3 separate regions of the Homo sapiens genome follow, and all the other regions are linked to region 1. The links come from fine-mapping of genetic effects on gene expression. A gene starts in region 1. Each other region holds a variant in brackets. All regions are shown on one strand. Distances are between the middles of the regions.

The links. PIP is the estimated chance that this variant, and not a neighbour inherited with it, causes the effect.
Region 2: its variant is fine-mapped to the expression of CCDC183-AS1 in testis (GTEx, PIP above 0.99).
Region 3: its variant is fine-mapped to the expression of CCDC183-AS1 in sun-exposed skin (GTEx, PIP 0.94).

Annotation. Positions count from the first base shown.
Region 1 is chr9:136,806,489-136,810,523 of GRCh38, forward strand. It overlaps CCDC183-AS1 (CCDC183 antisense RNA 1), which reads right to left and starts at 2,360. Exons shown (of 5, transcript NR_024580.1): 1 at 2,239-2,360; 2 at 341-714; 3 at 1-49. It overlaps CCDC183 (coiled-coil domain containing 183), which reads left to right. Exons shown (of 14, transcript NM_001039374.5): 11 at 16-184; 12 at 269-379; 13 at 482-578; 14 at 1,084-1,253. The coding sequence ends at 1,202. RABL6 (RAB, member RAS oncogene family like 6) reads left to right here and starts at 1,460. Exons shown (of 15, transcript NM_024718.5): 1 at 1,460-1,838. The coding sequence starts at 1,709. It also overlaps the pseudogene LOC100422233. RefSeq lists enhancers at 404-999, 1,000-1,596 and silencers at 872-1,101, 1,302-1,471, 1,522-1,581, 1,602-1,731, 1,742-2,271.
Region 2 is chr9:136,771,473-136,775,507 of GRCh38, forward strand. No RefSeq gene overlaps it. Among named protein-coding and RNA genes, the nearest start is that of LCN15, 9.0 kb to the left of the region's middle. RefSeq lists an enhancer at 2,285-2,579. The variant G/C (reference allele first, on the strand shown) is at 2,476.
Region 3 is chr9:136,777,559-136,781,593 of GRCh38, forward strand. It overlaps the pseudogene ATP6V1G1P3. Among named protein-coding and RNA genes, the nearest start is that of TMEM141, 12 kb to the right of the region's middle. The variant G/A (reference allele first, on the strand shown) is at 1,832.

The sequences.
Region 1 (4,035 bases):
TATTGCCTTCTGCAGCTTCAAGTCCGTTGAGAAGAAAATGACAGACATGCTAAAAGAGGAAGAAGAGAGGCTCCAGCTGGCGCACAGCAACATGACCAAGGGCCAGGAGCTGCTGCTGACCATCCAGATGGGCATCGACAACCTCTATGTCCGGCTGATGGGCATTAACTTGCCTGCGACCCAGGTACCGGGAGTGAGGCTGAGCTGCCACACACCAGGTCCCTGGGCAGGGCCAGAGGGGAGATGAGACCCTCCTCCCGGCCTACAGAGAGAAGTGGTGCTCTCCAACACCCTCGATTTGAACAGCAAGCTGGCGTACTGCGAGGGGAAGCTCACGTACCTGGCTGACAGAGTGCAGATGGTGTCCAGGACCGAGGAGGTAGCCCCGGGCTGGGAGGAACCTGCACAGCCCACGTCCCCTCAAAGCTGACAGGCTCCCGTTCAGAGTGTCTGCACGGCTGAAGGGGGCTTTGCCCTGCAGGGCGACACAAAGGTGAGGGACACCCTGGAGTCCTCGACTCTGATGGAGAAGTACAACACCAGGATCAGCTTTGAGAACCGGGAGGAGGATATGATCGGTACAGGCCCCGGAACTGGGGCCCGGGCTGCAGGCGGGTGGCTGGAACACAGGTCGGGGTGGCGCCGGCTCCCATCCCACCGGGACATCCTGGAGGGACAGCGGGGCTACAGGGTGCATCAGTTGTACCTGCAGGACTTTAATTGATGGAGGTGACTTAGTGATGCCATGGGGAGGCTAAAGCCACTGAAATACCTTGTTAATTTCTCCGAAAGGAGGAGGCATGCCATGCCAGACGGGCCCGGAGGAGAGGCACCAGGGCTGGAGCAGGGAGGAGCGCGGTGAAGGCCTGGGCCGGAGCTTCCACTGGGGGTTCTGCGGGAAAGGCTAGGCAGGGCAGCGTGAGCCGCTGCGAATGGGCTGGGCTGAGTCCTCCCGGCACGCTGGGGCTGTCCCTGGGGCAAGGCACCTGGCCCGGGTCGGTGGAGGGCGGGGGCGAGAGGCGGGTCGGGCGGCTGCGCCTAGCTGGGCTAGCCCCGTGTGCGAGCCGCCGCCTCCGCCCGCAGACACCTTCCAGTTCCCCGACATGGACCACAGCTACGTCCCTTCGCGCGCCGAGATCAAGAGGCAGGCGCAGCGGCTAATCGAGGGGAAGCTCAAGGCGGCCAAGAAAAAGAAGAAGTAGCCCCGCCGCCCCGCTCCCTGCTTTGCTACACAAATAAACATTTTTCCAGGACTGCTGCGGACGCTGGGGCGACCGGGGTCTCGGAGAGGAGCACGGGACACGCAGGATCGGGGGAGGTTCTGCGTAAGGAGGCAGCCCGGGCCCGGAACTGCGCGCCAGAACCGCGTGCGCATGCGCCGACCGCGCGCGCCGCGCCCCCGCGGCCCTCGCGGCGCCCCGTAGCCGCGCACCCCTCCCGTCCCGCCGAGCCGGCGCCAAGATGGCGGCGCTGACTCCTGGAGAGCGGTCGCGCCGGAGGCCGCGGGGGCCGGAGCGGAGCAGCCGCGGCTGAGGTTCCCGAGTCGCCGCTCGGGGCTGCGCTCCGCCGCCGGGACCCCGGCCTCTGGCCGCGCCGGCTCCGGCCTCCGGGGGGGCCGGGGCCGCCGGGACATGGTGCCAGTCGCACCCCTTCCCCGCCGCCGCTGAGCTCGCCGGCCGCGCCCGGGCTGGGACGTCCGAGCGGGAAGATGTTTTCCGCCCTGAAGAAGCTGGTGGGGTCGGACCAGGCCCCGGGCCGGGACAAGAACATCCCCGCCGGGCTGCAGTCCATGAACCAGGCGTTGCAGAGGCGCTTCGCCAAGGGGGTGCAGTACAACAGTGAGTGCGGCGGGCCGGGGGGGCGCGGGAGCGCCGCGCGGGTCTCCGAACCCAGGCCCCGGGCGCCGCGCGGTGGTGGGTGTCGGTCTCACCTGCTTGCCGGTTGTGGGGTGCGCTGGGCCCGCCGGGCGCTCCGGGAGCGGGGGCGCGGGCCAGGGGACGCGAGGAGAGGCCAGGCCAGGGCCGGGTCCTCGCGGCCCCCGAGCCGCGGGTCGTTTCCCAGCCGCACTCGCCTGCCGCGTGTCGCTCCCGCCGCGCTGTGCAGTGGAGCGGGTCGGCGGCGGCGGGGTTGGCCCGGCTGCCCGGCCCGGGGGTGATTACATAATGCCAAGCAGGGCCCGCCGGCCCGGGGCGCCGCGCCCCCGACGCTCCACGGTGCCCAGCCCCGGGCACCACTCACCTGCAGGAGGTGCGGGGAACCCAGCCGGCCTTGGCGCTTTCAGCGGGATTTTTCTTTGTTGACTTCCTACTGAGTTTGAAGACAGAATATTAGCTACGCCACACATTCTCGCCTTTTTTTTTAAAAGAAGCGTTTGTAAGAGACGTATCTAGAAAAGCTCCAGAAGGCACGGGCTGACTTGCGACTGTAGGAGACATCCCATTTCTCGTAGGAAGGAGGAGTCATTTACGGACTCCTGAGTGCCTGGGACGCTCCATTCCTTTGTTATAAATTGTGTAAATTGTCCTCGACCTCTTATGAGTTTTTCCATCTTGCGGGCTCTTTCCCAGTAGTTTTTGAAAGCTTTTATGTGGTTCCCTGTTTTGACATTGCTTCCCTCTTAGCCATTTCCGTATGTTTCTATGAGGTTTTAGGACGCTACGCCTATCCAGTTTTTTGGTCACTTTAAGGGGAGCCTTAGAGCCTCCGTGATATTTCCATGGTAATGTAGAATTTTAAGAACTAATGATCAGAAAGACTCTTGTGCAGGTTTAAAAGCAAGTTCATGAATTCGCGTGCCGTGTGCACGGAGAGAGGCCGTAGTTCCTGGGGCTGGAGCTAGTCCAGGAGGACAGTGAAGATGTCGCCTTCCTTAGTCCCCCGGCCTGTGAGCAAGAGGAAGCTGCAGACCACTCGGGCCACCCTCACCCAGACACCTTTAGCAGTAAGCAAGATAAAACAACTTCTTAAAGATAAGTCTGAGCATCTAGGTATGAAAGTTGGTGTCCGGGCCGGGCACGGTGGCTCATGCCTGTAATCCCAGCACTTTGGGAGGCCAAGGCGGGCAGATCACGAGGTCAGGAATTCGAGACCAGCCTGGCCAACATAGTGAAACACCGTCTCTACTAAAAATACGAAAAAAAAATTTAAAAGAAAGTTGATGTCCGAACCAAGGGCCGTATTGGCTTTTCTTATACTCTAGAACATACGACGACAAAGAAGATTTTGATGAAGTTCAAATTAGAGTCAGCGTGCTCATCAGAAAGAAAGCGCAGCCAACACGTTTAGGAACAGAAACGGATTATGTTGAAGACAAACAATCCATTGCGTTTGTGTTCAGTAACCCAAGCATCAAAGGAACTTGTGGCTGGGGAGAAGGCTTGACTATTTGAAATCTCAGGACTCCTCTGTCCAGGAGCTCCCAGACTCCCGTGGAGTGGAAGCCTGGGGGCTCGCTGAAGAAGTCACGTGACTGGAACGTGCTTAATGCTTGGCTGTCTGGTAAGGAAAATAAAGTGGTGCATTTTGAATAAAAATAAAAGCTGATTTTAAATGTGTTATAATTGAAACTTTATACATAGCTGGCATTCGGAGAAGAGAATATTGAGTCAAAATAACTGAGTTTACGCCAGTTTTTAGACTCTGCGTTTGGATCCTTTATTTAATTTTATTGCTTACAGTATTGGCTAAGCTCAGTATTAGTCCCTGGGAAATCAGGCCTGGACCTGGAAACTGTTCACCTTCTGAAAAGGCTCCCCGAGGGTCCTGGGCAAGGTCCACCTCATGCACCAGGACCACCCCTGTGTGGTCCTGGGCGAGTGTGACTAAAAAGGGCAATGGGGTCCTTCCAGAGGAGAAAAGCCAGTCTCCAGTACTTGGAGAACAGGTTATGATCTCCTAGAACTGAATGAAAGGTGGTGAGACAGAGAGAAATTTGAATTTGTACCTAAATTACATTTTAGAAAGATGTTATCTTTATAGCTGAATAACATGCAATTTTAAAACTTTTGAGTTTCTGTGTTAGAATAGAAAGTTTCT
Region 2 (4,035 bases), 35 kb before region 1:
AATCCCAGCACTTTGGGAGGCCAAGGTGGGCAGATCACCTGAGGTCAGGAGGTCGAGACCAGCCTGACCAACATGGAGAAACCCCGTCTCTACTAAAAAGATACAAAAAAATTAGCCAGGCGTGGTGGCTTACGCCTGTAATCCCAGCACTTTGGGATCAGGAGTTCGAGACCAGCCTGACCAACATGGTGAAACCTCGTCTCTACTAAAAACATATAAAAAAATTAGCTGGACATAGTAGTGGGCACCTGTAATCCCAGCTACTGGGGAGGCTGAGGCAAGAGAATCACTTGAACCCAGGCGGCGGAGGTTGCAGTGAGCCAAGATAGTGCCAACTGCACTCTCCAGCCTGGGTGACAGAGCAAGACTCTGTGTCAAAAAAAAAGAAAAAAGAAAAAAAAAAAAGAAAACAGTGTAGCAGGCAAAGGTTTGATTTCCACACCAAAGCCTAACTCTGAGAGCATGGTTTTCTTCCAGATTCTCTCTAAATACTAATTTCAGGGAAGACAGGCCCATTCCCAGCCTCCTGGAAATCCTTCTCAACACAGTTCTTGAGTCTGTGGTCCCTCCCATGGTCCTCCCCACCAGCACTCTGCTGTAGCTCTCAGGCTGCTCTGCCACCTCCCCTCCCCATCTACCTGCTCAAGGACTGGCCCGTTTGCTGTCTTGGGTGGAAGGGGCAGTCCTGAACTCTCTTCTTCAAAGTGACAGTTTAATTCTCCACCCCTTAAATCTTGGCGGGAGGGGCACCTTGTGACTGCTTTTGTAACCGAACACACATTCAGCTGCTCAAAAGCCAAAACTCAAGAGACAGGAGTTGGTGGGAAGAAAGCAATTTATTCAGACAGCCAGCAAACCAAGAAGATGGTGGACTAGAGTCCTAATGTGCCATCTCAGGTGGGTACAAATTTCAAGCTCTTTTTATGTTAAGGGCAGAGAAAGAGAAGGTGGTTAGGATCAAGAAGTGATCTACAGTCGGGTGCGGTGGCTCACGCCTGTAATCCCAACACTCCCACTTTGGGAGGCCGAGGCGAGCAGATCATCTGAGGTCGGGAGTTCGAGACCAGCCTGACCAACATGGAGAAACACCGTCTCTACTAAAAATACAAAATTAGCCGGGCATAGTGGCGCATGCCTGTATTCCCAGCTACTCTGGAGGCTGAGGCAGGAGTATCACTTGAACACAGGAGGCAGAGGTTGCAGTGAGCTGAGATGGTGCCATTGCACTCCAGCCTGGGTGACAGAGCAAGACTCCGTCTCAAAAAGAGGTGACCTACATCTGGGTGGGGTGGCTCAAACCTGTAATCCCAGCACTTTGGGAGGCCAGGGCAGGTGGACCACTTGAGCTCACAAGTTCGAGACCAGCCTGGGCAACATGGTAAAACCCTGTCTCTACAAAAAATACAAAAATTAGCCTAGCATGGTGGTGTGCACCTGTAGTCCCAGCTACTCAGAAGGCTGAGGTTGGAGGATGACTTGAGCCCAGGAGGTGGAGGTTGCAGTGAGCCGAGATGGCACCACTGCACTCCAGCCTGGGTGATAGACCTTGTCAAAAAAAAAAAAAAAAAAAAAAGAAGTGGCCTATGAGCACAGACATCTCAGACATCTGGGCACCAGCAAGTCTGAGGAGGTTGGGAACTTCTTTGTCCTTAGTCAGGTCGCAATGCTTTTACACATATTTAATAAAATATTGTTAGTTGTTTATATACTTTCAACCTCAGAGTTAGTTTTTAAAACTACATGATTACTGTTTTTCCATATTATCTCAGTGCTCCGAAATTATCCTAGCCTACGTGCAGGATGGGTAAAGGCCCCTTGAACACAAACGGAGTGAGTTATGTTAGTTCTACTGTTTTACTGTTATACTTTGGCCAATTGAATACAGTGGAAGGGATGCTGTGCCAGTTCGGGAGTGGCCTGGAAACTGCTGGAAACTGCTAAACTGGCCTGGAGACTGCTACTTCCTGTGTCTTCGAAGTCCACTGGCACATGAGAAGTACAACTGCTCAGAGGCAGCCATGTTGAAAGGAAGCCCAAGCAGCCACATGAACACCCTGGTTTACAGGCCAGCAGATCCCCCAGCAACAGCCATCATTAGCTGCCAGCTACTTCCTGCAACAATGTGATCCTAGATTCAGCAAAACAAAACAAATCCTGTTGCTGGTTTCTCCTGCTCAGGCCTGGAGGCATCCAGACCTCACCAGAACAGACACACAATATAGTGGAACTGATGTGTAGACGCAGTCAACACACAAGAACAACCATCACCCGGGGAGTCAACCCTGACCCCAGGGCGGGGGAGACCAGAAACTCTCTCCCATGTCCTCTCTCCCCTCGGCCTCAGGAGGGACCCATGTGGGCACTGGCATCCAGGATGAAGACTACACTTCCCAGCATCCCTTGCAGCAAGCAGTGGCCATGTGACCAGGCTGTGGCCAATGGGGAGGCGAGGCCTGTGCACAGCGGCTGCCTTTA[G/C]AGGAAGGAAGTTTTGTGCCCTGTTGTCCCCTTCTCCTCTCCCTGCTGGCTGGCAGGAGACAGGGTGGACTCTCAGGGGGAAGCTACACCCTAAGGAAGTCAGAACAGCAAGATGGAAGGAGGCTAAGACCCTAAAAACTGCATAGAGAAGAATCTCCCGACTGCCTTGGACTTTCATGTGAAGGGAATGAACCTCTGTCTTAGTTAAGCCACCGTGATTCAGGGTCCTTGTCACATTCACCGAGGCTGTAACCTAATTGGTAGAAAGAACAGGAGCGGGAGGGGAGATGGAGTCAGAGAGGCAGGCAGAGGTCAGATCACATCAGGCCTGCAGGTCAAGATGGAGGAAGAAACAGGCAACATAGGACTCAAGGACCACACCTGCTCCCAGGTGAAGGGATTTTGCCGTGGGTGCCCCTCCCTGTCTGCTGGAGAAAGCTAATTTGACCCACTTCCCTTTAGGACTTTGCAAGATGCACATCACAGTCACAGGTACTTGTCTCCTAACAGTCCTTTCAGGGGAACTGCCCCACCCCTAATTAACCCAGCCTCAGGTATTCCTTTATAGCAATGCAGGTGGACTGACACATATCTTTAGTGTCGTGAGACTGTGACAAGAGCAGGAAAGAATCCTCGTGTGCATCCCTCTGAGCGTTGGGAGCTGTTGTTGTAGCAGCTGCTGTTACTCATCCTGACTGATACACAGACACCGCCAGTAGCCCTCTCTCCTGGAAACGCCATGTAAGTTAGGTGAGGCATGACCCAGGAAAGCTCTCAAGCTGACTTCCCTCCTACCCTCAGGGCTGCGGAGCAGGTCCCTCATTATCTAAGATCAGTTGGACACCTGTACGCCTGCCATGGCCTGGAGCAAGTGCCAGGCACTGTGGATGATGAATATGAGAACAGCATCAACCCTGCCCTCCTGCAGGTGACTGGCCAGACCGTGGGATTCCTCCACAACCAACTCTGCACACACAGCTCACTCATGTCGAGCAGGAAGCGGAGCTTGGGATCACCTGACCCGCTCCCCTCACCTGGGAGCAGCTTATATAGAAGCGCCTGTAGTTCACACAGGGCTGATGGTTCCAGCTTCCAAGACACCCCGAGGCCTCCTGGGCTGCTTGGTAATCAGACCAGGTACGTGCAAAGAGGCATGGCTCTTTATTTTCACTTAATTGAGAAAACCACATCAGCAAAGAGAGCATCCAAGCTCAGTGGCCCTTTCTCCCCACAACAGTGACCATTAACCTTTTAAAAGATGCTTTATGGGTTATTTGCCAAACCTCCTTCTTCATGCCGAGGTGTGATGAGGCTCATAAATAGGCCAGACTTGGGAGGGGACAAATGCGAGCAATGCCACCAATGAGAGGCCCAGGCAGAGCCGGTCTCGGGGCTGCCCAGCCATGTGTGCACCAAACATGGATGTGTCAGTGGCCGTGCCAGGAGTCAAGCTCTTGGCCAGGGGCCTCTGGGTGGCCAAGGCCAAGTCTTGTTCAAAAGGTGAGTTCAACTGAGCCAACCATGGCAGAAATACATAAGGGAGACCCCATGCCTCCTCTG
Region 3 (4,035 bases), 29 kb before region 1:
TGTTGTAGTTTGACGGTCATGGAGCTGGAGACCTCGGGAGGGTCCATTTGAAGAGCAGCACCGGCTCCTCCCTGGGCCTCAGGCTCCACGACCTTCAGACTTTAAAAGCGGTAATACCGGCTTCTCCCTGGGTTTCCAGCTATATAACCCTCAGACATGAAGCGCAACAGCACCGGCTCCTCCCCGCCTCCAGTTCCATGACCCTCAAACTACAACAGCAGCACCAGCCTCTCCCCAGGTCTCCAGCTCCACCACCTTCAAACTAGAACAACACCACCAGCTTCTCCCTGGGTCTCCAGTTCCACAACGCTCAAACTAGAACAACACCAGCTTCTCCCCAGGTCTCCAGCTCCACAGCCCTCAAACTAGAACAACGCTGGCACCTCCCTGATTCTCCAGTTCCATGACCCTATAATTAGAACAACACCAGCTCCTTCTCTGGTCTCCAGCTCCACAACCCTCAAACTAGAATAACACCAGCTCCTCTCCAAGTCTCCAGTTCCATGACTCTCAAACTAGAACAACACCAGCTCCTCCTCAGTTCTCCAGCTCCACGACCCTCAAACTAGAACAACACTGGCTCCTCCCCAGGCCTCCAGCTCCATGACCCTTAAACTAGAACACCACCACCAGCTTCTCCCCTGGTCTCCAGCTCCATAACCCTCAAACTAGAAAACACTGGCACCACCCCGATTCTCCAGCTCCACTAACCTCAAACTAGAACAACACCAGCTCCTCCTCAAATCTCCAGGTCCAGGACCCTCAAACTAGAAAAACACTGGCTCCTCCCCAGGCCTCCAGCTCTGCAATCCTCAAACTAGAACAACACCATCTCCTCCCCAGGTCTCCAGCTCTGTGAACCTCAAACTAGAACAACACCACCAGCTCCTCCCAGGTCTCCAGCTCCCCAACCCTCAAACTGGATCAACACCAGCTCCTCCAGGGTCTCCAGCTCCCCGACCCTCAAACTGGATCAACACCGGCTCCTCCAGGGTTTCCAGCTCCCCAACCCTCAAACTGGATCAACACCGGCTCCTCCTCAGTCTCCAGCTCCGTGACCCTCAAACTGGATCAACACCGGCTCCTCCTCAGTCTCCAGCTCCCCGACCCTCAAACTGGATCAACACCAGCTCCTCCAGGGTCTCCAGTTCCCCGACCCTCAAACTGGATCAACACCAGGTCCTCCAGAGTCTCCAGCTCCCCGACCCTCAAACTGGATCAACACCAGCTCCTCCAGGGTCTCCAGCTCCCCAACTCTCAAACTGGATCAACACCGGCTCCTCCAGGGTCTCCAGCTCCCCGACCCTCAAACTGGATCAACACTGGCTCCTCCAGGGTCTCCAGCTCCCCGACCCTCAAACTGGATCAACACTGGCTCCTCCTCAGTCTCCAGCTCCGTGACCCTCCAACTGGATCAACACCAGCTCCTCCAGGGTCTCCAGCTCCCCGACCCTCAAACTGGATCAACACTGGCTCCTCCCCAGGCCTCCAGCTCCGTGACCCTCAAACTAGATCAACACCAGCTCCTCCAGGGTCTCCAGCTCCCCAACGCTCAAACTAGATCAACACTGGCTCCTCCAGGGTCTCCAGCTCCCCAATGCTCAAACTAGATCAACACCAGCTCCTCCAGGGTCTCCAGCTCCCCAACCCTCAAACTAGATCAACACCGGCTCCTCCTCAGGTCTCCAGCTCCCCGACCCTCAAACTGGATCAACACCAGCTCCTCCAGGGTCTCCAGCTCCCCAATGCTCAAACTAGATCAACACCGGCTCCTCCTCAGGTCTCCAGCTCTGCGACCCTCAAACTAGAACAACAACACCATCTCCTCCCC[G/A]TCTCTCCTACTTGCATGTCCATTTATAGGCTCTCTGCAAGAAGAAAAATATGGCTTTTTTTGCCCGAACCTGCAGGCAGTCAGACCTTATGGTTGTCTTCCCTTGTTCCCTAAACATTGCTGTTATTCTGTTCTTTTTCAAGGTGCACTGATTTCATATTGTTCAAACATACATGTTTTACAATCAATTTGTACAGTTAACACAATTATCACAGTGGTCCTGAGGTGACTTACATCCTCAGTTTACAAAGATAACAGGAGTAAGTGACTAAAGTAAAGACAGGCATAAGAAATTGTAAAAGTATTATTTGGGAACTGACAAATGTCCATGAAATCTTCACAATTTGTGTTCTTCTGCTGCGGCTCCAGCTGGTCCCTCCATTCGGGGTCCCTGACTTCCTGCAACATGCTGGCATGCACCTGTAGTCCCAGCTACTCAGGAGGCTGAGGCAGAGAATTGTTTGAACCTGGGAGGTAGAGGTTGCAGTGAGCCAAGATCGCTGCCACTACACTCCAGCCTGGGCCACAGAGCGAGACTCCGTCTCAAAAAAAAAAGAAAGAACTGGAGGCTGACACAGGCCAAAGAAGCAGCTCAGGCTGAAATTGAACAGTACCACCTGCAGAGGGAGAAAGAGTTGAAAGCCAAGGAAGCTGCGGCACTGGAATCCATGGCACTGGCAGCACCAAAGTGGAGAAGGAGACCCAGGAGAAGATGACCATCCTCCAGACCTACTTTCCTCACAACAGGGATGAAGTCTGGGATAACCTCTTGGCTTTTGTCTGTGACATTCAGCCAGAAATGCATGAAAACTACCGCATAAATGGATAGAAGAAGAGAAGCACCTGTTCTTTGGATAGGCATTTTAGATGCCCTCATGAAATATGAAGCTTTAGCATAGCTCTAGTTATAGTCTTATGAAATTATGAAGGGGACCTGCCCCTCCACACCTGCGGGTATTTCTCACCAGGTGGAGATGAGAGACTGAGAAAACAAATAAGACACAAAGACAAAGTATAAGGGAAGAAAAGTGGGCCCAGGGGACCGGCACTCAGCAAGTGAGGAACTGCACCGACGCTGGTCTCTGAGTTCCTCAGTATTTATTGATCACTAGCTCTACTATCTCGGTGAGGGGGACATGGCAGGACTATAGGGTAATGGTGGGCAGAGGGTCAGCAGGAAAACATGAGCAAAGGACTCTGTGTCATAAATAAGTTTAGGGAAAGGTGCTGTGCCTGGATGTGCACGTAGGCCAGGTTTATGTCTGACTTTACACAAACCTCTCAGTGCAGTAAAGAGCAGTATTGCCGCCAGCATGTCTCACCTCCAGCCATGGGGCAGTTTTCTCCTATCTCAGTAAACAGAATGTATGATTGGGCTTTACACCAAGACATTCCATTCCCAGGGATGAGCAGGAGACAGATGCCTTCCTCTTATCTCAACTGCAAAGAGGCCTTCCTCTTTCACTAATCCTCCTCAGTACAGACCCTTTATGGGTGTCAGCCTGGGGGACGATCAGGTCTTTCCCTTCCCATGAGGCCATATCTCAGGCTGTCTCAGTGGGGGGAGACCTGGACAATACGCAGGCTTTCTTGGGCAGAGGTCCCTGCGGCTTTCCGCAGTGCACTGTGTCCCTGGTTAATGGAGAATGGAGAATGGCGATGACTTTTACCAAGCATACTGCCTGCAAACACATTGTTAACAAAGCACATGCTGTATAGCCCTAAATCCCTCAAACCTTGAGTTAACACAGCACATGTTTCTGTGAGTACAGGGTTGGGGCTAAGGTTACAGATTAACAGCATGTCAAAGCAGAAGAATTTTTCTTAATACAGATCAAAATGGAGTTTCTTATGTCTTCCTTTTTCTACATAGACACAGTAACAGTCTGACCTCTCTTTCCCCCACATTTCCCCCTTTTCTTTTTGACAAAACCACCATCATCATCATGGCCCATTCTCGATGGTCGCTGTCTCTTCGGAGCTGTTGGGTACAGCTGCAGACTGACAACAGACAGAAGCATTAACACGAAATTTACGATAGCGGAACTTCCGAGGGTTTTAACCCAAGTGACAGGGTTAAGACTTGTGAGGCCGGCTGGGCACGGTGGCTCACGCCTGTAATCCCAGCACTTTGGGAGGCCAAGGTGGGTGGATCACGAGGTCAGGAGATTGAGACCATCCTGGCTAACAGAGTGAAACCCTGT